Linked DNA regions of Homo sapiens: region 2 is linked to region 1. The links come from fine-mapping of genetic effects on gene expression. A gene starts in region 1. The other region holds a variant in brackets. All regions are shown on one strand. Distances are between the middles of the regions. Region 1 holds the start of NLRP3 (NLR family pyrin domain containing 3). Region 2 holds the start of LOC124904575 (a long non-coding RNA gene).

The links. PIP is the estimated chance that this variant, and not a neighbour inherited with it, causes the effect.
Region 2: its variant is fine-mapped to the expression of NLRP3 in whole blood (TOPMed, PIP above 0.99).

What each region holds. Positions count from the first base shown.
Region 1 is chr1:247,410,352-247,422,057 of GRCh38, forward strand. NLRP3 (NLR family pyrin domain containing 3) reads left to right here and starts at 5,822. Exons shown (of 10, transcript NM_001243133.2): 1 at 5,822-5,842; 2 at 7,702-8,726. The coding sequence starts at 8,450. RefSeq lists enhancers at 6-55, 166-225.
Region 2 is chr1:247,442,995-247,454,700 of GRCh38, forward strand. NLRP3 (NLR family pyrin domain containing 3) reads left to right here. Exons shown (of 10, transcript NM_001243133.2): 8 at 978-1,148; 9 at 1,657-1,827; 10 at 5,411-5,823. The coding sequence ends at 5,510. OR2B11 (olfactory receptor family 2 subfamily B member 11) reads right to left here. Exons shown (of 2, transcript NM_001004492.2): 2 at 6,188-11,706. The coding sequence starts at 8,988. The coding sequence ends at 8,035. It overlaps LOC124904575 (a long non-coding RNA gene), which reads right to left and starts at 5,233. Exons shown (of 2, transcript XR_007067005.1): 1 at 5,090-5,233. The variant G/C (reference allele first, on the strand shown) is at 5,740.

The sequences.
Region 1 (11,706 bases):
CCTGAGATCATCCCACTTGGGCTTGTGTCTTAGTCCGTTTGTACTAACAAAACACCTGAGACTGGGTAATTTCTAAGGAGCAGAAATTTATTTCTTAGAGCTCTGGAGGCCGTGAGGTCCAGGATCAAGGCGCTGGCCTTGGTGCCCGGTGAGAAGTGCTCTCTGCTTCCAAGATGGTGCCTTGTTGCCATGTCCTCACATGGCCCATGGCAGATAGGCAAGAGAGAGCACCCCCTTGAACCCGGAGCCCTTTTACAAGTGTGTGAATCCCATTCATCACCCCACAAACTCAATCACCCCACAAACACCACACCCCTGAATACTATTGTATTGGGGGATTAAGTTCTTTTTAAATTTTTATTTATTTGCGTATTTTTATTTATTTATTTATTTGGAGACAGGATTTGGCTCTGTCACCCAGGCTGAAGTGCAGTGACACAATCTCAGTTCACTGCAAGCCTTGACTTCCTGGGTTCAGAAGATCCTCCCACCTCAGCCTCCCCAGTAGCTGGGGACCACAGGTGATTTCAACTTGAAATCATTCATGCAATTTTAGTTTGGAATTCAGTGCTGTGAGTTCCAGTCCACTTAAGTGAGCTTTGGGTATTTAATGGAAGCAATTATTTTTCTTAAATGTACAAGAGTAAATTATTATTATTTTTTTTTGCATGAATGATGTATGGAAAATCACCGCGTTTTACTTTTGTGAGTTGACTTATTTATTTGTGTTGATTTTGATATTCCCAAATCTGAAACAAAATTTTTTCAGAATGCATAATAACACACAGAGTATGGTGGTCTTTCATTGACAAGTTTTTATGTATGATTAGAGTATCTTTTCAAGATTCATAATCTGCATTTTTTTAATATAGGGTCTCACTCTGTCACCCAGGCTGGAGTGCAGTGGCACAGTCCTAGCTCACTGCAGCCTCAATTTCCTGGGCTCAAGCGATCCTCCCACCTCAGCGTCCTGAGTAGCTGGTACTACAGGCATGCACCACCACATCCGTCTATTTTTTAATTTTTTGTGGAGATGGGGTCTCACTATGTTGCCCAGGCTGCTCTTGGCCTCCTGGCTTCAAGTGATCCTCCTGCCTCAAACCTCCCAAAGCGTTGGGATTACAGGTGTGAGCCACTGAAACTGGCCTGACCTACAATTTGAATACTACTGTACAGTTTACATTTTGCTGTCAGGTATTATTTTATTTATTTTTTCCTCTCTACAATAATGTATTATAGATCAGGTCTTGTTTTATTTGAGCCTCACAGGAAAGCTGAGGTGAGGGTCGCAGGCAAGGAGTCGGACCACAGGAGTGGTCGCAGCATTCAGCGGAGAGTGAAGCAGCGAAGGCTGGAAACCTCATCTGCTTCTCGTGAACTTCCCACTGCCCCAAGTGACTGATGTCCTTACACAATTGCAGCCAGTTCGCCAGCTGCATGAGTGACAGTGGCATAATTGACGATTGCCAAAAACGGAAACAGCCCAACTGTCCTTTGCCTAGGGAATAGAAAACCAAATTGTGGCCTATCCAACCCATGAAATACTTAACTGCAGTAAAAAGGAATAAGCTACTGATCTGAATCTCACAGGCATCATATGAAGTGAGCGGACTCGCTCACCAAAGGCTGCACACTGTTTATGTGATGCTCTGGAAAAGGTAATGCTTTAGCAGGTGGAAGAAGTGGGGCTGCGGGTGGGGACAGAGGCTGACTATGTGGCAGCACAGTGGGTGGGGACAGAGGCTGCACAGGGAGCATGTGCAGCTGATGCAGGTGCTCTGTGTGGGCTGTGGTGGTGGGTAGCTATATGCTTGTGAGCACTCACAGGCCTGTGCATGAAAAAGGTGCGAATATTTATTTTATTGTACATATTTCAGGTGTATAACATGGCAGTTTGATATACATAGTGAAATGATTGCTGCAGTCAAGCAAATTAACATGAGTTAACATAGCCACCATCTCACATAATAATCTTTCTTGTGGGTGGTAAAAACATCTAAAATCTCTCTTAGCAAATTTCAGGTTTATAATATTTTTAACTATCGTTCCCACACTGTTTGTTAGATCTCTCGGCTTATTTATCCTACATAACCGAAATTTCGTACCCTTTGACCGTCATTTTATTTCCTCTACCCCGGTAACTCTCTGTTTCTATATATTCAACTATTTTTTTTTGAGACAGGATCTCGGTCTGTCACTCAGGCTGGAGTGCAGTGGTGTGATCTCGGCTCACTGCAGCCTCGACCTCCCAGACTCAAGCAATCCTCCCACCTCAGCCTCCCAGCCTCTCAAGTAGCTGGGGTGACATGTGCACACCACTGCACCTGGCTTCCTTCCCTCCCTCCCTCCTTTCTTTTCTTTTTTTCATTTTTTTGGTAGAGGTGAAGCCTCACTATCTTGCCCAGGCTGGTCTCAAGCTCTTGGGCTCAAGTGATCCACTCACCTCAGCCTCCCAAAGTGCTGGGATTACAGGTGTGAGGCACCACTCCTGGCCTAACTTTTTTTTTTTTTTTTTTTAAGGTTCCACATATGAGTGAGATCATGTAGTGTTTGTCTTTCTGTGCCTGGCTTATTATGCTTTGTGTAAAGTCCACCGGGTTCATCTATGTTGTGGCAAATAGCAGAGTCTCAATTTTTAATACTAACTAAGATTGTATTGTGTATATATGCCCCAAACTCTTTATTTATTCATCTGTCAATAGACACTTGGGTTGTTTGCCTATCTGGACCATGGTGAATAATGCTGCTATGAACATGAGTGCACAGATGTCTTTGTGAGGTGGTGATTTTATTTCCTTTGGATACACACTCAGAAGAAGGATTGCTGGGTCATACGGTAGTTCTATTTTTAATTTCTTTAGGAACCTCCATATTGTTTTCTGCAATGGCTGCACCAATCTGCATTCCCAGCAGCAATGTGCAAGGGTTCCCTGTTCTTCACGCCCTAGCCAATGTTTGTCTCTTGTCATTTTGCTAATAGCCATCCTAACAGGTTTGAGGTGGTACCTCATTGTGGGTTTGGTTTGCATTTCCCTGATGATTAGTGATGTTGAGCACTTTTTTGTATACATGTTGACCATTTTTGTTTCTTTTTTAGAGAAATGTCTATTCAGTTCCTTTCTTCATTTTAAAAATCAGATTATTTGTTTTATGCTTTGAGTTGTGTGAATTCCTTACATATTTTGCATATTAACTACTTATCTGATATATGGCTTAAAACTATTTTCTTCCAATTTGTTGGCTACCTTTTCACTCTGTTGATTGTTTCTTTTGCTATACAGGAGCTTTTTACTTTGATGTATTCCCACTTATTTATCTTTACTTTTGTTCCTTTGCTTTTGTTGAGACATTAAAAATATCCATGCCAAGGCTAATATCAAGAAGTTTTCTCCTCTGTTTTCTATTTTTTATATTTAGTTTTTTATCTGTTTAGAGATTGGGTCTCATTCTGTTACCCAGGCTGGAATGCAGTAGTGTCATTATAGCTCACTGTAACCTCAAATTCCTGGGCTCAAGTGATCTTCTTGCCTCGGCCTCCTGAGTAGCTGGGCTACAGGTGCACAGCACCATGCCTGGCTAATTTTTTTTTTTTTAATTTTGTAGACACAAAGTCTCACTATGTTGCCCAGGCTGACTGTGAACTTCTGGCCTCAGGTGATCCTCCTGCCTCAGCCTCCCAGAGTGCTGGGATTACAGGCATGAGCCACCATGCCTGGCTTCTTCTCTATTTTCTTCTAGGAGTTTTACAGTTTTAGATCTTATGTTTAGATCTTTAATCCATTTTGAGTTGGTTTTTGTGTGTGCCAAGTTTTATTCTTTTGCGTGTGGAAATCCAGTTTCACCAAAAGCTTAATTTTTCAAAATCTTATATTTTTCTTGATTTTTTTTTCACACTTCTATAGCCAACATCTTTATTGAAGAGATTGTCCTTTCTCCATTGTGTCTTCTTGGTGACCTTGTCAAAGAATTAGTTGACTGCATATACTTGAGTTTATTTCTGTTCCACTGGTCTATGGGTCTGTTTTTATAAAGGCATGGATTTTTACTGCATATGAATTATACCTAAATTTGTCTTTTTTTTTTCCTTTTTCTGGAGAATGGGGTCTCACTATATTGCCCAGGCAGGTCTCGAACTCCTGGGCTCAAGCTATCCTCCCGCCTCTTGCCTCCCTGAGAGCTGGGATTACAGGCGTGAGCCACTGCGCCCGGCTGAATTATACCTAAATTAACTTGACTAAACAAACAAAAACAAAAAGATCCCAGGTTCAGCCAATGAGCTCCTTTTTTTTTTTTTGAAATGGAGTCTTGCTCTTGTCACCCAGGCTGGAGTGCAGTGGCACAATCTCAGCTCACTGCAGCCTCCACCTCCCAGGTTCAAGTGATTCTCTTGCCTCAGCTTCCTGAGTAGCTGGGATTACAGGTGCCCGCCACCACACCCAGCTATTTTTTTTTATATTTTTAGTAGAGATGGGGTTTCGTCATGTTGGCCAGGCTGGTCTCAAACTCCTGACCTTGTGATCTGCCTGCCTTGGCCTCTCAAAGTGCTGGGATTACAGGCATGAGCCACTGCACCCAGGCTGAGCTCCTTTCTTTTGGAGCATATTTGGTCTGCTTTCTCTCTAGCTTCAGCACCTGAAGTTTTTGCTGCTCCTGCCTCAGCTCCAGCCCCGAATGACACCTTTCACCTGGTTCATGGAGACTCAGGTCTGCTGTCATGCCCCTAAGCAGGACTAGATGCCTCTCTCATGTTGTAGAGCATTCTCTCTGCAGTTCTGTAGAAAGGTGGTAGTCATCGGAACCAACTGCTTATTCTAGCTTCTCTGTGCCAGGCTCTGTTTTAAAGGCCTCACGTTTAGCCATTCACTCAGTGTTTTCTGACAGCCTTCTAGGATAGGTACCGTTATTTGGGTTGATGTAGTGCTTGGTCAAATGCAGTATAATGAAGGGATCAAGGAGGGGGCAATTCCAAGCAAAACCACTTGTTCATCCATCCTGAGTCTAGGAGATTTGGAAGATCTAAAGAAGTAGCAGGCAATTATTGTCACCCTTTTACAGGTATGAGGCACAGACAGACCCAGTCATTTGCTGACATCCCTCCACTGAACTGGGTGCTCGTCCTTTTCACTCACCCAGAGGCTGAGCGAGTGCCTCTCACCCACCAAGCTCTGTTGAACTTGTGCCTTTGCCGGTCTGTGGTCCTGCGGCCGTCTCATGAGCTGCAGAGTAGGTCTGTGTGTGTCTCTCCTCAAGCTACTCAAGCTGAGGCTTTGTGTGCATGCCTGCCACATACCAGCCATTCCGTGAGTGTTAGTGGAACAGGTGAGTCAATGAGTCAGGGAGTAAAATTTGTGCTTTAAAAGTAGAACATGTCGGAGAGAACCTGTACTGCCTTCCAGCCATCTTGCTGTGAGAGGACAGGGCATGGACTCTGGAGTTTGAAGGCTGGGTCAGGTCATGCTCTGGATTCTTTACTCACTCGCATGGCATGTCCTTAGTTTCACTTCCCTCACTCTCAGTGGAGCCGTTGCAGCGGGCAGTGTCAGAGGCAACATCCATTTAGCACTGCCGATTTGACCCCCAGCCCCATCTCATACTGGCCTCCCACCCTGCTTCTGTGGGGTGCCTCAGAGGAGAGCAAGGTGAACCCCAGTATGGAACCGAGACACGGTTTTGACAACACTGTTGATCCCATTTGGAAAATCCAGCTATGTGATTAACCATTAGTCTCTCTGCCTCTGCTCTGATGTAAGTGGAGACCACATCCTTCCTGCCCCTTCTGGGGCTGCGACTGCTATAAATTCATTGCATTTCCTCTCTAGCTGTTCCTGAGGCTGGCATCTGGGTAAGTCCAGCTCCGCGGGGCAGTGTGGGCGACAGGACCGGGAGAGCAGTGGGGGAGATTGTGTTCAGAGGGCAGAACTTGTCCTGGTTAATGCACTAGGAATTTCTTCTGGCGTCTCCAAGGTTGTGCTTCAACAACATTTCTGGAATGTTCTTTTATCATTATTTGGGCTCTACGTGTGCAAGTTCGTGTGTGTGTATGTGGCGGGGGGAAGCGGGGAGGACAGCGGCAGCAACCATAGTTTACACCCACGACTTCAGCAGATTTGCCCAGTATCCCTCCCAGGGGAGAAGATGGATGGGATATACAGAAGGAAACAAACCTCCTTAAAGACCAAAGGGCAGCAGATTTTTGTGCTGGTGTTAGGGTGGAAGGAGCACAGAAGAAAGGCAGAATCCTGATGCAGATGGAAGGACTGATGGGGCAGGAGCTGGGAGGGTATGCGGAGCTAATAGGGCTGTCTGGAGAGCAGTCACCTCAGGATGGGCAGGAGCTGGGAGGGTATGCGGAGCTAATAGGGCTGTCTGGAGAGCAGTCACCTCAGGATGCACAGGGCTGGGTTTGCAGGGCTCAGGAGGCGAGGAGTAGATAGGCAGGAATGGAGATGGGACGGGAGAGATGAGTGAGTCTGAGGCATCTTGACATTGAACTGCAGTCACAGAAATTCCAATTTGGAGAGCTCCACCGTTTTCCAGGCTCTCTGCCTCCCTTGAGTGTTATTTATGGCTTTAGGTTGAGGTGCTTTGCCAAATAGAGTATAATCAAGGGATCAAGGAGGGAACAATTCCAAACAAAGCCAACTTGTTCATCCATCCGGACTCTAGGAGATATGGAAGATCTAAAGATACAGCAGGTGATTGCTAGTTTTTGTGGAACTCACAGTCTAGTTGGGAAGACTATGTTGGTGAATGCTGCAGTGATACACCTGTGATAAATGCTGGGGAAGTGTGTCTTTTAGTCATCTATTTTGTTGTCTTTGTCTTTGTCTGACTGAAACAAGTGATGGAAGACATGGTCTCATATCTCTGGTCAAAATCCTGGCTCTGTTCCTTCCTGGTTCTAAACCCCTCGGCAGGCTTCCTAGTCCCCCTAAGACTCAGTTTATGCATCTATAAAATGGGGCTAGGAATAGGTGCACCTCATAGAGCTCTGTGCAGGTTAGATGGGGAAAAACATCAGTGAGTGCCTAGCCTGTGGAAAGCTCTAAATTAATGTGAATTATAATGATAACAATTGCGAATTTTGCAAGGAGACATTAAAGGATGTATGTTTTTATTTATTTTATTTTATTCTATTTTATTTTTTGAGATGGAGTTTTGCTCTTATTGCCCAGGCTGGAGTGCAGTGGTGTGATCTTGGCTCATCGCAACCTCCGCCTCCTGGGTTCAAGCGATTCTCCTGCCTCAGCCTCCCGAGTAGCTGGGATTACAGGTGCCTGGTACCATGCCCGGTTAATTTTTGTATTTTTAGTAGAGACGGGATTTCTCCCTGTTGTTTGGTGAGCCTGGTCTCCAACTCCTGACCTCAGGTGATCCGCCCACCTCGGCCTCCCAAAGTGCTGGGATTACAGGGATGTATGTTTTTATTATTCTCCATTATGCACTCCCAGCTTCATCTCACTTCAATCCACTGGTTGATAGAAGTGCAGTCAAAGACTGTCCCCTCCTCTGCAAGCTTTTATGTTCTCTCTCCTCTCTCCCTAGCCACGTCCTGTTCTGTTATCAACACACTTACTCACCTCCTGGCCTTCTCCTTCTATTGTCTCTCATCCCTCTTCCCTCACAAAAACAGAAGCAAAGAGCCAGAGCCTTCAGTTTGGAGGAACTGAAAACATTCTCTTCTGCTTTCTCATTTTGTAGATGAGGAAACTGAAGTTGAGGAATAGTGAAGAGTTTGTCCAATGTCATAGCCCCGTAATCAACGGGACAAAAATTTTCTTGCTGATGGGTCAAGATGGCATCGTGAAGTGGTTGTTCACCGTAAACTGTAATACAATCCTGTTTATGGATTTGTTTGCATATTTTTCCCTCCATAGGGAAACCTTTCTTCCATGGCTCAGGACACACTCCTGGATCGAGCCAACAGGAGAACTTTCTGGTAAGCATTTGGCTAACTTTTTTTTTTTTGAGATGGAGTCTTGCTGTGTCGCCTAGGCTGGAGTGCAGTGGCGTGATCTTGGCTCACTGCAGCCTCCACTTCCCGGGTTCAATCAATTCTCCTACCTCAACTTCCTGAGTAGCTGGGATTACAGGCGCCCGCCACCACACCCGGCTCATTTTTGTACTTTTAGTAGAGACACAGTTTTGCCATGTTGGCCAGGCTGGTCTTGAATTCCTCAGCTCAGGTGATCTGCCTGCCTTGGCCTCTCAAAGTGCTGGGATTACAGGCGTGAGCCACTGTGCCCGGCCTTGGCTAACTTTTCAAAATTAAAGATTTTGACTTGTTACAGTCATGTGACATTTTTTTCTTTCTGTTTGCTGAGTTTTTGATAATTTATATCTCTCAAAGTGGAGACTTTAAAAAAGACTCATCCGTGTGCCGTGTTCACTGCCTGGTATCTTAGTGTGGACCGAAGCCTAAGGACCCTGAAAACAGCTGCAGATGAAGATGGCAAGCACCCGCTGCAAGCTGGCCAGGTACCTGGAGGACCTGGAGGATGTGGACTTGAAGAAATTTAAGATGCACTTAGAGGACTATCCTCCCCAGAAGGGCTGCATCCCCCTCCCGAGGGGTCAGACAGAGAAGGCAGACCATGTGGATCTAGCCACGCTAATGATCGACTTCAATGGGGAGGAGAAGGCGTGGGCCATGGCCGTGTGGATCTTCGCTGCGATCAACAGGAGAGACCTTTATGAGAAAGCAAAAAGAGATGAGCCGAAGTGGGGTGAGTGGAAGGAAGACTTTTAAAAAAAATTGTGGCCAAGTGCACATAGTGTACAATTTTCCATCTTTATATATATATATATATATATTTTTTTTTGAGACGGAGTTGCTCTTGTTGCCCAGGCTGGAGTGCAATGGTGAGATCTTGGCTCACTGCAACCTCCACCTCCCGGGTTCAAGCGATTTTCCTGCCTCAGCCTCCCAAGTAGCTGGGATTACAGGCATTGCACCTCCACGCCCGGCTAATTTTGTATTTTTAGTAGAGATGGGGTTTCTCCATGTTGGTCAGGTTGGTCTCAAACTCCCGACCTCAGGTGATCCACCCGCCTCGGCCTCGCAAAGTGCTGGAATTACAGGTGTGAGCCACCGCGCCCGGCCGTAATAATTTTTAAATGTACAGTTCAGTAGTGTTAGGTACACTCACATTGTGCAACCAGTCTCCAGAACTGTTTTCATCTTGCAAAACTGAAACTCCTCACCCATTGAATGATAACTCCTCATTGCCTCATTCTCCCAGCCCTGGTAACCACCATTCTATTTGCCATCTCTGTGAATCTTACTACTCTGGGTACCTCATATAAGTGGAAACATACAGCATTTTTTCCTTTATGAGTAGTTTATTTCACTCAGCATAATGTCCTCCGGGTTCAACTATGTTGTAGCATGTGTCGGAATTCCCTTCCTTTAAAAAAGACTGTATAAATACTCCATGGTACCATATACCAAATTTTGTTTAGTTATCTGTTGATGAACACCTGGATTACTTCTACCTTTTTGTTATTGTTAATGCTGTTATGAGTGTTGGTGCACAAATATCTCTTCAAGACCCTGCTTTGAATTCTCTGGGGTATATACTCAGAAGTGAAATTTCTGAATCATACGGTAATTCTGTTAAATATTTTGAAGAACTGCTCTACTGTTTTAGATACCATCTGCACCATTTCCCACCAACAGCACACAAGGGTTCCAATTTCTCCATATCCTAAGAACACGTTATTTTTATTTATTTTTTCTTTTTTATAGTAGCCATTCTAATGAGTGTGAGGTGGTATCTCACTGTAGTTTTGATTTCCGTTTCCCTAATGATAAGTGATGCTGAGCACATTTTCACTGCTTGTTGGCCATTTATAGAGCTTCTTCAGAGAAAGTTCTGTTCAAGTTCTTTTCTCATTTTCAGACCAGGTTTGGCTTTTGTTGTTGCCTTGTAGGAGTTCTTTATGTATTCTAGATATTAACCCCATATCAGATATATGATTTACAAATATTTTCTCCTATTCTGTGGGTTGTCTTTTCATTTGGTTAACTGTGTCCTTTGATGCACAGAAGTTAGTATGATTTTTTTTTTTTTAAATCATGGCCGGGCATGGTGGCTCATGCCTGTAATTCCAGCACTTTGTGAGGCTGAGGTGGGTGGATCACCTGAGGTCAGGAGTTCAACACCAGCCTGGCCAACATGGCAAAACCCCATCTCTACTAAAAATACAAAAAAAATTAGCCGGGTGTGGTGGTGGGCACCTGTAATCCCAGCTACTCAGGAGGCTGAGGTAGGAGAATTGCTTGAACATGGGGAGTGGAGGTTGCAGTGAGCTGAGATTGCACCACGGCACTCCAGCCTGGGCTAAAGAGCAAGACCCTGTTTCAAAAAAAAATTTTTTTTTCTTGTATTGTCTTGGTTTTTTCTCTTTTCCCCTCTCACGGTAGTGCTATGAGAAGGTGGAGGCAAACTGTTTGCTTTCTCTAACTCCTTTAAAAAGCTGATGCAGACTGTACCTACCCCCTGGGCACCTGCCATGATTAGTCCCTCTTTATCTGAATCTCAGCAGTGCCTAGACCTGCCTCCAATTCTCCATCCAGCTTCTCAGACCACATGTTTTGTCCAGTATCTGCTGTGTGGTCAGCAGGCTTGGGCCTCTGCTTCCTATGGCCCAGAGGGCAGCCTCTCTCCTTGAAGAACCGTGGAGTTTGGGGCAGAAGCCTTTCCTTTCACCACCACTTTGGGAATTGGAATGTAAAAGAAATTCTCTTAATCCCCATGTACACATTGGGGATAAGGTTCTTTCTTTTGTCTTGTGTTCTAGGCAAAGGTAGGGCTCAGAGAAGGGCAGGGTATTGCAGGATGATGATGTAGAGCTGGTGGTGATGGGAAGGAGGAGTACAAATGAGTCAGTGGATAGGGAGACACATGTTAAGGCAGGGCAGCAGTGTGGGTGTAATGACACTGGGGAAACAGACAGCAGTGTGCAGCCGGGGGAGGTCAGAAACCAGTTGCTGCAATGGCTCTCACCTGTAGTCCCAGCTACTCAGGAGGCTAAGGCAGGAGGATCGCTTGAGCCCAGGAGCTCAAAACCAGCCTGAGCAACATAGGGAGACCTCATCTCTAAGTAAATAAAGCAATTATCATTGTGTCAGTACTTATATACTCACATACCCAAATGAAAGTGTCATAATCACAACTGTAGAAGTACTTTGCTAAGCAGTTTTTATGGATTTTATGGCACATTCAAGAAACCCATGAAACAGCTTCTGGTATTATCCCTCCTGCAAGTGAATGAGGTGAGCCTGGAAGAGATCCTAACTGGCCCATGGTTTATTTCTAGCCATAACCAGAGCTGGGGTAAAAAGCAGGGCATGTCTCTGATCAAAGCCTGGCTCTTAACCACTACACCGTCTTTGCTTCCATATCTGGATTTTGAGGCAGAAAAGTTATAACTAGGGTTAGAAGTTTGTTTGTTTGTTTCCTGGGGTGGGGTTAGGTTTTAGGTAATAGACTTTGGCTAATTTACTGTCATGGCTCCTACCTGAGTCCCAGTTACTCAGGTGGCTGAAGTGGGTGCATCACTTGAGCTCAGGAGTTCCAGGCTGGAGTGAGCTATGACCATGCCACTGCCCTCCAGCTTTGGAAACAAAGCAAGACTCTGTCTCTTAAAAAAAAAGAATAAGATTTTGGTTTTGGCTTAGATTTTTTGGATTTTATTTTGTGA
Region 2 (11,706 bases), 33 kb after region 1:
GGCTCACTGCAACCTCTGCCTCCCAGGTTCAAGCAATTCTCCTGCCTCAGCCTCCCAAGTAGCTGGGATTACAGGTGCCCACCACCACCCTAACTAATTTTTATATTTTTAGTAGAGATGGGCTTTCACCATGTTGGCCAGGCTGGTTTTGAACTCCTGACCTCGTGATCCACCCTCCCAAAGTGCTGGACCTCCCAAAGTGCTGGGATTACAGGCATAAGCCACTGCACCTGGCCTTATTTATTTATTTATTTAGGCAGGGTCTCACTCTGTCACCCAGGCTAGAGTGTGGCAGCGCAATCATGGCTCACTGCAGCCTCGACTTCCTGGACTCAAGCGATCCTCCCACCTCTCCAACGTGGTTGAGGGCTGCAGCGAGAAAGATGTGAAAGGGGCATTTGGGGGCGCAGGAAGGCGGGAGGTGGCAATTGCTAAGGGCCCCGCCGTGTTCCTGTCACAGCCCTAGCTACAGCTTAGAAGGTCACAATGGACGTTCACCTGTTGTCTTTGATGTTTAAATCAGCACCGACTTCCCATGAGGAGGATTTTTTTTTCCTGTCTCTCTTAAAAAAAAAAAAAAAGGCCCCTGCAGTGTGGGTGTCTGCAGTGTTACGGGGATTATTAGTTGAGGATAACCACTGGGATGTGTTTCTGGAAGAAGTGGTGCTGAGGAGCACTCCTGGCCGGAGGAAAGCTGTGTGAGGAGGAGGAGGAGTATGGGGTAACTGGCTCAGTTTGCCTTGGCTCTTTCTGTCGGACTCATACAGCAAAGCATCTGCTGAGACATCATTTGTGTCTCCTGTGACAGCCAGAGACAGCAGGTCTTGCTCTCCCCAGATCATATCTGAGATGCTGGCTCCTGCTCTCTGAGCTGAAGGCTGCAGCTGCTGAGAGAGGACGAGGCACTGAGTCAAAGCAGCTGCACAATGTTGGGGAACAGCTGGGTACTGAGGACTCTTCTCCCTGTCCTTCTACAGGTTGGTGAATTCTGGCCTTACGTCAGTCTGTTGTTCAGCTTTGTCCTCGGTACTCAGCACTAATCAGAATCTCACGCACCTTTACCTGCGAGGCAACACTCTCGGAGACAAGGGGATCAAACTACTCTGTGAGGGACTCTTGCACCCCGACTGCAAGCTTCAGGTGTTGGAGTAAGTCCTTTGGTTTATTACAGCAATGAGAACACATGGTGGCCAAGGGTGGAGGGACGTTTAGGCAGAGTGGCCACAAGATAATCTGTATCTTAGAAGTGAGGTGTCTTCTTAGTGTTTGCCTTGTTACAGGATCATGGGACTGGGAGGAGTCCTTCCAGATGATATAGATGTAGGAACTTGAGTCCTTACCATCACAGTTTTCTGTACCACAAAACAAGGAGGGCAGTATGACACTTACATTTTATGGAAATGTAGGGAAAGGCACAGAATTTGGTAAATCAATGAACAAACCACTGTTACTAATTTGATCTGTGCAATGCAGTGGATTTGAAAAAGAGAGAGAAGAATAATTACCAGCATACAAGGCTGCTTGAAGCTAGTTAGTCCTGTGCTCCTGTGCTTTTTTTTTTTCCACCTGAAACAAGACAGGCTAAGATGCTAAAATCTTGGGGAGCTAGGGGGATGGTTAAGGGGACATTTTCTTTAAATCACCCCCTTTTTGCAGATTAGACAACTGCAACCTCACGTCACACTGCTGCTGGGATCTTTCCACACTTCTGACCTCCAGCCAGAGCCTGCGAAAGCTGAGCCTGGGCAACAATGACCTGGGCGACCTGGGGGTCATGATGTTCTGTGAAGTGCTGAAACAGCAGAGCTGCCTCCTGCAGAACCTGGGGTGAGTGTGCTCTGCAGAGATGCCCGTGGTGGGACTCTGAGTTCTCAGGAAACGTTGACTGTTATCAAAATCCAGGATGGCTCTCGCTTCATTTGCAGCCACTCAAGATTAGGTTGGGCCTGGGTCAGTTGTGGTGGATATTTTAAAATAGAGAATATGGGGTTAAACTACACATTCCACTTCACTGAGATGGTTAGAATCACCAAGGCTAAGCTGGATTTCACCCACATTCCCCAAAGAAACACAAGCCCTCATGCGATCATGGCCAAGGAGGATTCTGTTCTACACAAGGAACCGAACTTCGTAGAACTCGTCTATGGGTCATCCAAATTGGAAGGGTCTTTACATAGTGGGGATCTTGTTGTTTTGTTTCTGAGGATTTATTTTTTTTTTCCTTGAGACAGAGTCTTGCTCTGTCGCCCAGGCTGGAGTGCAGTGGCATGATCTCGGCTCACTGCAAGCTCCGCCTCCCGGGTTCACGCCATTCTCCTGCCTCGGCCTCCCAAGTAGCTGGGACCACAGGCGCCTGCCACCACACCCGGCTAATTTTTTGTATTTTTAGTAGAGTTGGGGTTTCACTGTGTTAGCCAGGATGGTCTCCATCTCCTGACCTCGTGATCTGCCTGCCTCGGCCTCCCCAAGTGCTGGGATTACAGGTGTGAGCCTCCGTGCCTGGCGGTTTCTGAGGATTTCTAAATGGGAAAAGAGTGCTCCAGGAATAGCAAGATGGGAAATTACACGAAATTCGACAGTGTGTCAGGATATTGCCAGCCCACCTCTGTGATACTACTGAGGTAGTCGTCTCCTCTCTAGCAAGAGCTTCCTGGCGAGTCCCACGGTTCTGTCAGCCGTGATGATTGCACTTTTCCCTGAAGACGTTTTCACTGCTTGGCTTTAAGGCCAACATGCTCTCCTGGGTTTTCTCCTATTTCATCAGATCCTTCTACTCAGTCTCCTTTCTGGCCTCTTCTTCATCATCCTGACCCTTATGTGTTGAATCCTCAGAGCTTAGTCGCTGGGCTAATTTTTCTTCCCTACACTTTCTCCCTCATTTAAATTATCTGGTCTTCTGGCTTCATGATATGTGTGCTGTGGCCTCCAGATTATATGTCCATAAATTCTGTGTCTCCGTGCTTGGCTGATCTTTCTTCTTGAAGGTTTAATAAACCTCTCAAACGTCACATCTAGATCCACACCCTTGCTACTCTCTTCTACCCGAAACCTGATTCTTCCCCATTTCAGTCGATGGTCACTTCCTCCAAGTTGCTCGGGCCAAAACATTTCTGGTTCTGTCGTCACTGTCTCTTTTTCCTTATAATCATGTCCAATGTGTCAGCACATCCTGTGAGCTCTGCCTTCCCAGCTTGGCCACTCCCTGACCACTTCAGGCCAGCTTCACGGCTTCTTCCTTGGCTCAAGCCACCATCACCTGGTGTCTGGATTGTCATGGTGGCATTCTGACAGGTCACCCTGCATCTGTTATTCTGATTTTAGCAGACAAGGGATTCAGCTAAAACGTAACTCGCATCATATCACTCTTGTCAACATCGTCTTCTTATCACTTTCATAATCAGAGCAACAAACTCATGGTGGCTTCCATGCCCCACATAATCCAGCCTCTCCTGCTTCCGAAGATTCCGCTTCTCCCAACCCTTGCTTATTCTGCCCCAGTACAGTGATCTCCTTGCTGTTTTGCAAGAACACTGTCATCTCTGGATTTTTGCACTTGCTTTTCTTCTGGCCTAGAACTCTCTCCCCTTCAGTATCCACCTGCATTATTCCCTGTACCTTCCTAAATTCTCTGCTTAAAGGTCTTCTCTGCGAGGCTGTCTTTGACTATTCTACTGAAAATAGAAGCACTTTTTCTTCTCTTCTCATTCTCCTCTGCAGTGTAGCACATCTTATGTGCTATGTCATTTTCTTGTTTATTTATTATCTATCTCTGCTCCCAAAATATAAATTCCATTAGTCCAGGGACTTCTGTCCATATTAATGATCTCAAGGCTGAGAACTTGTTGGAATGCAGGTTTGAATAAATACAAGTTTGAATCAGCCTTGCATCCTTGTGCCAACATAATGGAGCACATTTGCTGCAGGACAAGCCAATATTCCCAGAGCTAAGAGAGATGGGGGAACAAACAAAGGATTGGTCAGGTCAAAGCTGGGGACACTGCTACATGTAGCATCACTGACCTAGCCCTGAGGGACATTCTGGACCCAGGCTGAGGGACAGGCTCAAAATAGATTGAAGAATCCATGAATGCAATCAACCCGTTTTCTCAGGCTGCGATAACAAGCTGCTTTAGACTGTGTGACTCAAACACAGATTTATTATCTCACAATACTGGAGGCTAGAAAGTCCAAAATCAAGTCTCTGATGAATTTGGTTGCTGGCGAGAGTCCTCTTCCTGATTTGCAGATGGCTACCTTCTTGTTATGTGATTGCATGGAGGGAGGGGAGGCAAGGGAGAGAAGACAGGGGAGAAAGAACAAACTCTCTGATATCTCTCCTGTAAGGGCACTCACCCCATACTGAGGGCCCCACCCTCACAACTTCATCTAACTCTAACTACTTCCCAAGGGCCTCACCTTTAAGTACCGTACATTAGGGGTTCGGGCTTCATCATGGGAATTGTTAAGGAAGACAAACATTCAGTATATAACACCACCAAATTGAGATGGTTATAAATGGTGCAGGACAAATGGGTGGATTTATTAGTTAAGTTGCAAGGGAAACTTTATTAAAGAGGAGGAAGAACTTACATCGAAGATGTGAGAGGCATCCTGGGCAAATGCAATGTGTAGAATTGATCAGGTTAGTGACTAAATGAACATAAGGTAAAAAAATTTACAAGACAGTTGAGGAAGCGTAAATGCTGACTGGACATACAGTGATACTAAGAAATTATTGTTAAACGATTTTGGTGTGATAGTGACATTGTAATTATATTTTAGTGTCACAAAGTGAATTATTGATAGATGCATTAAATGCAGTATTTAAAATAATCCATGGGTGGGAGGAGTGGGTGGGCAATAGAAGAAACAAGTTGACATGACCTGTTTAATTGTCGAACTTGGGTAATGGACACAGGGGGTTCATTATACTATTTTCTATACTTTTATGTATGCTTAACATTTTCCCAACTAGATAGTTAAAAATATAACAGGAACCACATTGGGCACTTAGAGCTTTTTTTTTTTTTTCCCCACATTTTTATTGGGAGCCGTGGGAGGGGCCTCCTCTGTCATTGGAGGTGCTCACAGTTTCTTCAGCCACTCCAGGCTGGGGTCCTGGGGGTCTGAGGCTCCCAGTGACGAAGGACACGACGAGCACCGGCTCCTTGGCCCAGGCATTCTTGAAGAAGGTGCGGAGTCTCGCGGCCATCTTGGTCTCGGCGGCGGCGACGGCGGCGAGGACGCGGAGCACTCTGGGAGTTGTGGTCCCTCTTTTTTTTTTTTTTTTTTTTTTACATTTTAGAAGTGTGTGGAGTTTAGGGAAATGAAGAGATGAGACTTTTAAGGTTAACGACTCTGACAGAGTTATCTGAAGAGTGCAACCCAGGCTTTCTATTTGCTTTTACAGGTTGTCTGAAATGTATTTCAATTATGAGACAAAAAGTGCGTTAGAAACACTTCAAGAAGAAAAGCCTGAGCTGACCGTCGTCTTTGAGCCTTCTTGGTAGGAGTGGAAACGGGGCTGCCAGACGCCAGTGTTCTCCGGTCCCTCCAGCTGGGGGCCCTCAGGTGGAGAGAGCTGCGATCCATCCAGGCCAAGACCACAGCTCTGTGATCCTTCCGGTGGAGTGTCGGAGAAGAGAGCTTGCCGACGATGCCTTCCTGTGCAGAGCTTGGGCATCTCCTTTACGCCAGGGTGAGGAAGACACCAGGACAATGACAGCATCGGGTGTTGTT[G/C]TCATCACAGCGCCTCAGTTAGAGGATGTTCCTCTTGGTGACCTCATGTAATTAGCTCATTCAATAAAGCACTTTCTTTATTTTTCTCTTCTCTGTCTAACTTTCTTTTTCCTATCTTTTTTCTTCTTTGTTCTGTTTACTTTTGCTCATATCATCATTCCCGCTATCTTTCTATTAACTGACCATAACACAGAACTAGTTGACTATATATTATGTTGAAATTTTATGGCAGCTATTTATTTATTTAAATTTTTTGTAACAGTTTTGTTTTCTAATAAGAAAAATCCATGCTTTTTGTAGCTGGTTGAAAATTCAGGAATATGTAAAACTTTTTGGTATTTAATTAAATTGATTCCTTTTCTTAATTTTAAAAAAGAGTACCTAGAAATTTTTCAAATTATTTCTCTAAACCACTAAAGATAAATTAAATTGTTTGGTGCATTTTAAAAGTCACTTTGGCAAATGATTCCATTGTAGATAATTTTTAAAACGTTACCTCACTCTAACTGTAATGAGTGGAATTTCATCTTTGATAGGATAGGAGATTGAAAATCGTGGAGGGAAAGGTTTGAGAGTATCAGAGCCTGCGCTCCTAACTAGAAGTATTATGTAGAAGATGCATCTTGCTTTCAGTTGATAACAGCTTATTTTGGATTTATCCCATCCGAGGAACAGTTCATCTATTATACTTCACAGAGCATTAAGTTATAAGGAAATATTTACTAATTGCTTCTCTACACATGGACAACTCTTAAACCGCATGGAATTGCTCAGGATGGAAATACTATTTCCTCTGTACAATTAGCCATCAAAGTAGCCACACTTTGCTACTCAAAGTGTAGTCTATGAACTGTCGATATAAGGAGCTTGTATAAGAATGTAAAACAATCACATTATTAAACATACCTTTTAGATGAGCTGACATTTAAAAAAAACCCTGAAGACTATTTTTATAAGGGAAACAGTATGAGATTTACATTCTGTTGCAAACTCTGTCTTGTTAGCACTTCTGAGCAGCACCAACTGGAGACTGGGTTTCTGCATCTTGGTGAACTATTACCGACTGCCTTCCTGCTACAAACACTTTGATAACCTATATAAATAATGTAATCAGAAACACATAGCTGAGCTTGAAAGAGAGAAAGAGAACCTTTGGGCATTAGGACATTAAAACTGGCCAGGTTGCTGAGAATGCCATTATTTCATTCCTTTTTATGGCTGAATAGTATTTTTCCATGGTATATATCTCACATTTTCTTTTTCTTTTTTTTTTGAGATGGAGTCTTGCTCTGTCGCCCAGTCTGGAGTGCAGAGGCGCGATCTCGGCTCACTGCAACCTCCGCCTCCCGGGTTCAAGCAATTCTCTGCCTCAGCCTCCTGAGTAGCTGGGATTACAGGCGTGTGCCACCATGCCCAGCTAATTTTTGTATTTTTAGTAGAGATGGGGTTTCACCATCTTGGCCAGGCTGGTCTTGAACTCCTGACCTTGTGATTCACCCGCCTCGGCCTCCCAAAGTGCTGGGATTACAGGCATGAGCCACTGCGCCCAGATGGTTCCATATTTTTCCAATTGCAAATTGTGCTGCTATAAACACGCATGAGCAAGTATCTTTTTCGTATAATGACTTATTTTCCTCTGGGTAGATGCCCCGTAGTGGGATTGCTGGATCAAATGGTAGATCTACTTTTTGTTCTTTAAGGATCCACAATGTTTTCCATCGTGGTTGTACTAGTGTTTGTACTAGTTTACATTTCATGGAAAAACTTTCTATAGAAGAAAATGTGAACTACAGAGAAAAAAAAATCAAAATCACAGGAAGAAGATAGCAATCTACTTCATTCCTGGAATTGTCTGAAAAAGTCGTGTAAAATTTGTGGAGATTTAAGTATATGGAGAAAAACACTTATTCATTGTAAGTAAAATAAGATTGTATTTCAGCTTCATCTTGTGTATACTTAGGAGTAATAGAAAAGAGACAAATGGGGAGAGAATAAAAGAAATATAGGAAGAGGAAAAGAGAAAAGAATCAGGAAATTGGAAGTGAAATAATTCCACACATACTTATTGAAGTCTATTTAAACAATGCTTAAAAATATATGGCCTCTTAGAATTATACGTTTAAAATGAACTTTGTCGCTATGGGATTTGGGGCATTATAACAGGAAGTGAGATGTTTGAAGACAGGGTTTTTGAGCTCTCTGGGTATTAACTCCTTAAGTGAAAGATGCTCTGAGTGCACAATAGACTTGTGCTGTGTTCTTTAATTGATGGAGATGCTACATCTCATGTCCTCATCATCCACAGAGCCTCCAGATCCTGGCCAGAAGTCTCCTCAGAGCCCCCTTCATATCTTTATTTCTCAGGGTGTAGGTGAAGGGATTGAGAGTGGGGGTGATTATGGAATAGAAGAGAGAAATAAATTTGCCCTGCTCTTGGGAGTAGCTGGAAGGGGGCTGCAGATACATGTAAATCGCAGGTAGGTAGAAGAGGGAGACGATCATCAGGTGGGAGGAACACGTCCCAAAGGCCTTGTGTCGTCCCTTGGAGGACTGGATCCTGAGCACTGCCCGGGCAATAAAGCCATAGGAGAGAAGGATGAGAGCCAGGGGCACCAACACGAAGAAGGCCACCAGCACAGCCAGTATGGTGTCATTCACAGCGGTGTCAGCACACGACAGCTTGATCACGGCCGGCACCTCACAGAAAAAGTTGTTCAGCACCTGCCGCCCGCAGAATGGCAATTGCACCGTCAGGACCACCTGCACGAAGGAGTTGCCGAAGCCACTGAGCCAGGCCAGAGCCACGAGCTGCTGACAGAGAGCACGGTGCATGAGAACGGCATAGTGCAGGGGCTTGCAGATGGCCACGTAGCGGTCCAGGGCCATGGCGGCCAGGACGATGCACTCCGTGCATCCCAGCCAGTGGAAGACTGCATATTGCACAGTGCAGCCTCCATAGCTGATGGTCTTCTGGGAACTGCCCATGTTGACCAGCATCTGAGGGACTGTCGTGGTGGTGTAGCAGAGGTCCAGGAAGGACAGGTGACTGAGGAAGATGTACATGGGGCTGTGGAGTTGAGGATCCACCCGGGATGCCAGGATGATGGCGACGTTCCCCAACATGGCCAGCACATAGGACAGCAGGAGGACCACAAAGAGAGGGAGTTCCAGCCACGGCCTGTCAGACACACCCAGAAGGATGAAGGCTTTAGGGGAGTCCCCTAAGAAGCTATGGTTGTCACTTTTCATGTTGCGGCATTTTCTGGCACTTGTGGCAAATTGAGAAAATTGGAATGAATAATACCTGAGAAGAGGAATTGATCACTTTCCTCCCTCTTGCATCCACTCTTCCTTTCCCAGGTGATAGCCTGTTTGATTCTCCTTACCTCTGTGGAGACGCTGGGATGCGGAAGGGTCAGAACCAGGAGCCCCAGTAGCAGCCTCTGTGTCTTTGCTCTCCTTCCTACTCAGTGGCCGCAACTAAACCATTTAATATTCCTGAACTTCTGCATCTGTAAAATGGGGAGAAATACCTCCTTCAATTGCCAAGACTTGGGGACGATAGAGACATTAAGTATGTGAGAAGAATACCTCACGAATGACAATTATGTTCCAGGTAGAGCGAAGCGTGCTGCAGCTCCCATCACCGTCAGAGTGTTTGATTTCTCTCTACATCCACATCGACAAGGAATTGTCCACCTTCTTAGGCTTTCCCATTTTGGGAGGTAGTGGTAGGAGGGAGGCAGGCGGTGACATAAAGCAAGCAGAAGGGCTTTGTGAGCAGCTGGGGGCTGTATTGATAGGACCACCCCCCGTCACTGGCTCACGCTTGCATCCAGCTCCCGGATTCATGCTGATCTCCGCTGTCATGACCACACACGCACAGGCAGCCCTGTCACTCACACTGGCAGTAAAAGCAGCACAATTCTAGGTCCTGTGAGTCTCTGGAGTGGAAGAGCCAAGGTATACGTTACTTCAGCCCCTGAATAGGTCATGGTAGTTAATGAGACCCCAGACCATGGAATTTTGAGCACAGGGAGAAAGCTCTTGATTGGCGTGAGAAAGGTAGCCCCTGGAATTGTCTACGGAAAGATCAGACTGCCCTCTAGGGCTAGGTTTTATCTGATGGCTTGAGTGACATTCCAATTTCCTGCACAATTTCTTTGCCGAGCAGCTGTCACCTCTCAGTGATAGAAAACAGCCAATTTGATTTCTGAAACCATTGCTGTTAGGAAGCAACTGGGTTGCCACCTGCTGATTCGTGGGTCCTTTCGACTGCACCATTGGCTTCTCACCTCCTACAATCGCTCAAGCATTGCACACCTTCCAGTTCCTGATGGGGATGTTATGCTCCATGATAGGATTGAAAAATATTATTAATAAACAATAATTAATTAATCATTATTCATAATAAATCCTGTAAGCAGATAATTTATGAAGGATTTTTATTCTTGATTTGGTACCTTATGCATAGACTGTAAAACTAACGGAGATCTGCTCAGCTTACATGTTGCAACAGGTGTTCCCTGCTGCCCCAGTTGATGTTCTGAAGAACTCTACTGTTACTGGAAAACAACTCAAACTCCAGGGTTTCAATGGAGGAATAAGTTCAGTTTTTCCCTCCTGCTTCTCTAGTTTCAAAACCACACACGTTTTGTCAGAAAGTTGCCAATATTCTTGTGAAACATTCAATTATCGTATCTCCTCCCAGATTCTATCAACAATACTTATGAAATAAACTTCACAGAATGTGATCTTATCTCTAACGAGCTCAAGATGCCTGTCAAAACAGTGAGCTGTGGCCGAGCAAAGTCAAGCTAGCACATTTTTAAGTCTAATTATTAAGAAGTAAAGGAATTATGACATTTCTCTTTCTGAGATTTCTGATTCCAGAGTTTCTTTTCAGAGCCTAAACTGGGAGAAAAGGGAGAAGTTGTAGGGATAGTGAAGAAAGAAATGAGAGAATGAAGGAAGCAAGAAAGATAGAGGGGTAAATGTATGCGGCAATTTATAATAAAGACAAGTTATTTACCACTCACTGTGAGCCAGGTACTGTAATAATAACTTGATGTTGCCTTAATATCTCAGCAAGGTCCATGTTTTCACCCCTAATTGACTGAGCGACTCGGGAGGACAGCTGGTCTACCTTAGTTACACGGCAGCAAATGGTAAAGCCAGGACTGAAAGCCAAACTCCTGCTCTTCACTACTATTCTCTCCAGAACTTTGCTTTAAAAAAAGAGCAGCTGGTGACATGGGGAGCAGCAAGGGCAGTCGCGTAAACGACTGAGACAAAAGAAGTTCCTGGGAAGGGGAGATGAGGGAGAGGAAGGTCACAGGATAGAAAGGGGCAGGGATTAGAGAGGAGTGGTTTTCTTGTAATTATAGTCCACTGTACATGTGCACACTTACGTACACACGTGCACACACATGCATGCACGTGCACACGCACACACACACACACACACACACACGCACACACACACGGTTTCTCAATGGCAAAGCTGGACACTGCCCAGCCCTGCCCCTCATGCCCTGGATCTGATGCCCTTCTGTTCAGGTGTTTCCACACGGAGCTTTCGTAGGTGTCTAGCCTCTGCACTCCTTGACCTTCTTTCATCTTCCCACTACCCAAGTACAGGTGCCCCCTCAAGGCACAGCCTTGCTTCCCTGGATGGACACAGTAGTTCCCACAAACATCGCCATCGCATTCAGACGGAATCCCTCAGGCTGTATCTACAGTTGTCAGTTCCTCACTGACCTCTAACCCCCTTTTTGACATTGTGAACTGAGGCATCCCAAATTTCACCTGGCAGCCATCCCCCCAGACTCAAACCATCTCCTTCATCTTAATTCTGGCTGAGTTCCCTTCAGTCACCGTGATGCCAAGTACTGAGGTTCTTTCTATTCATGTTCTACTCCTCATTCACTCTAGTTCAGCACCGAAGTTAAAGAATTCAACACCCAC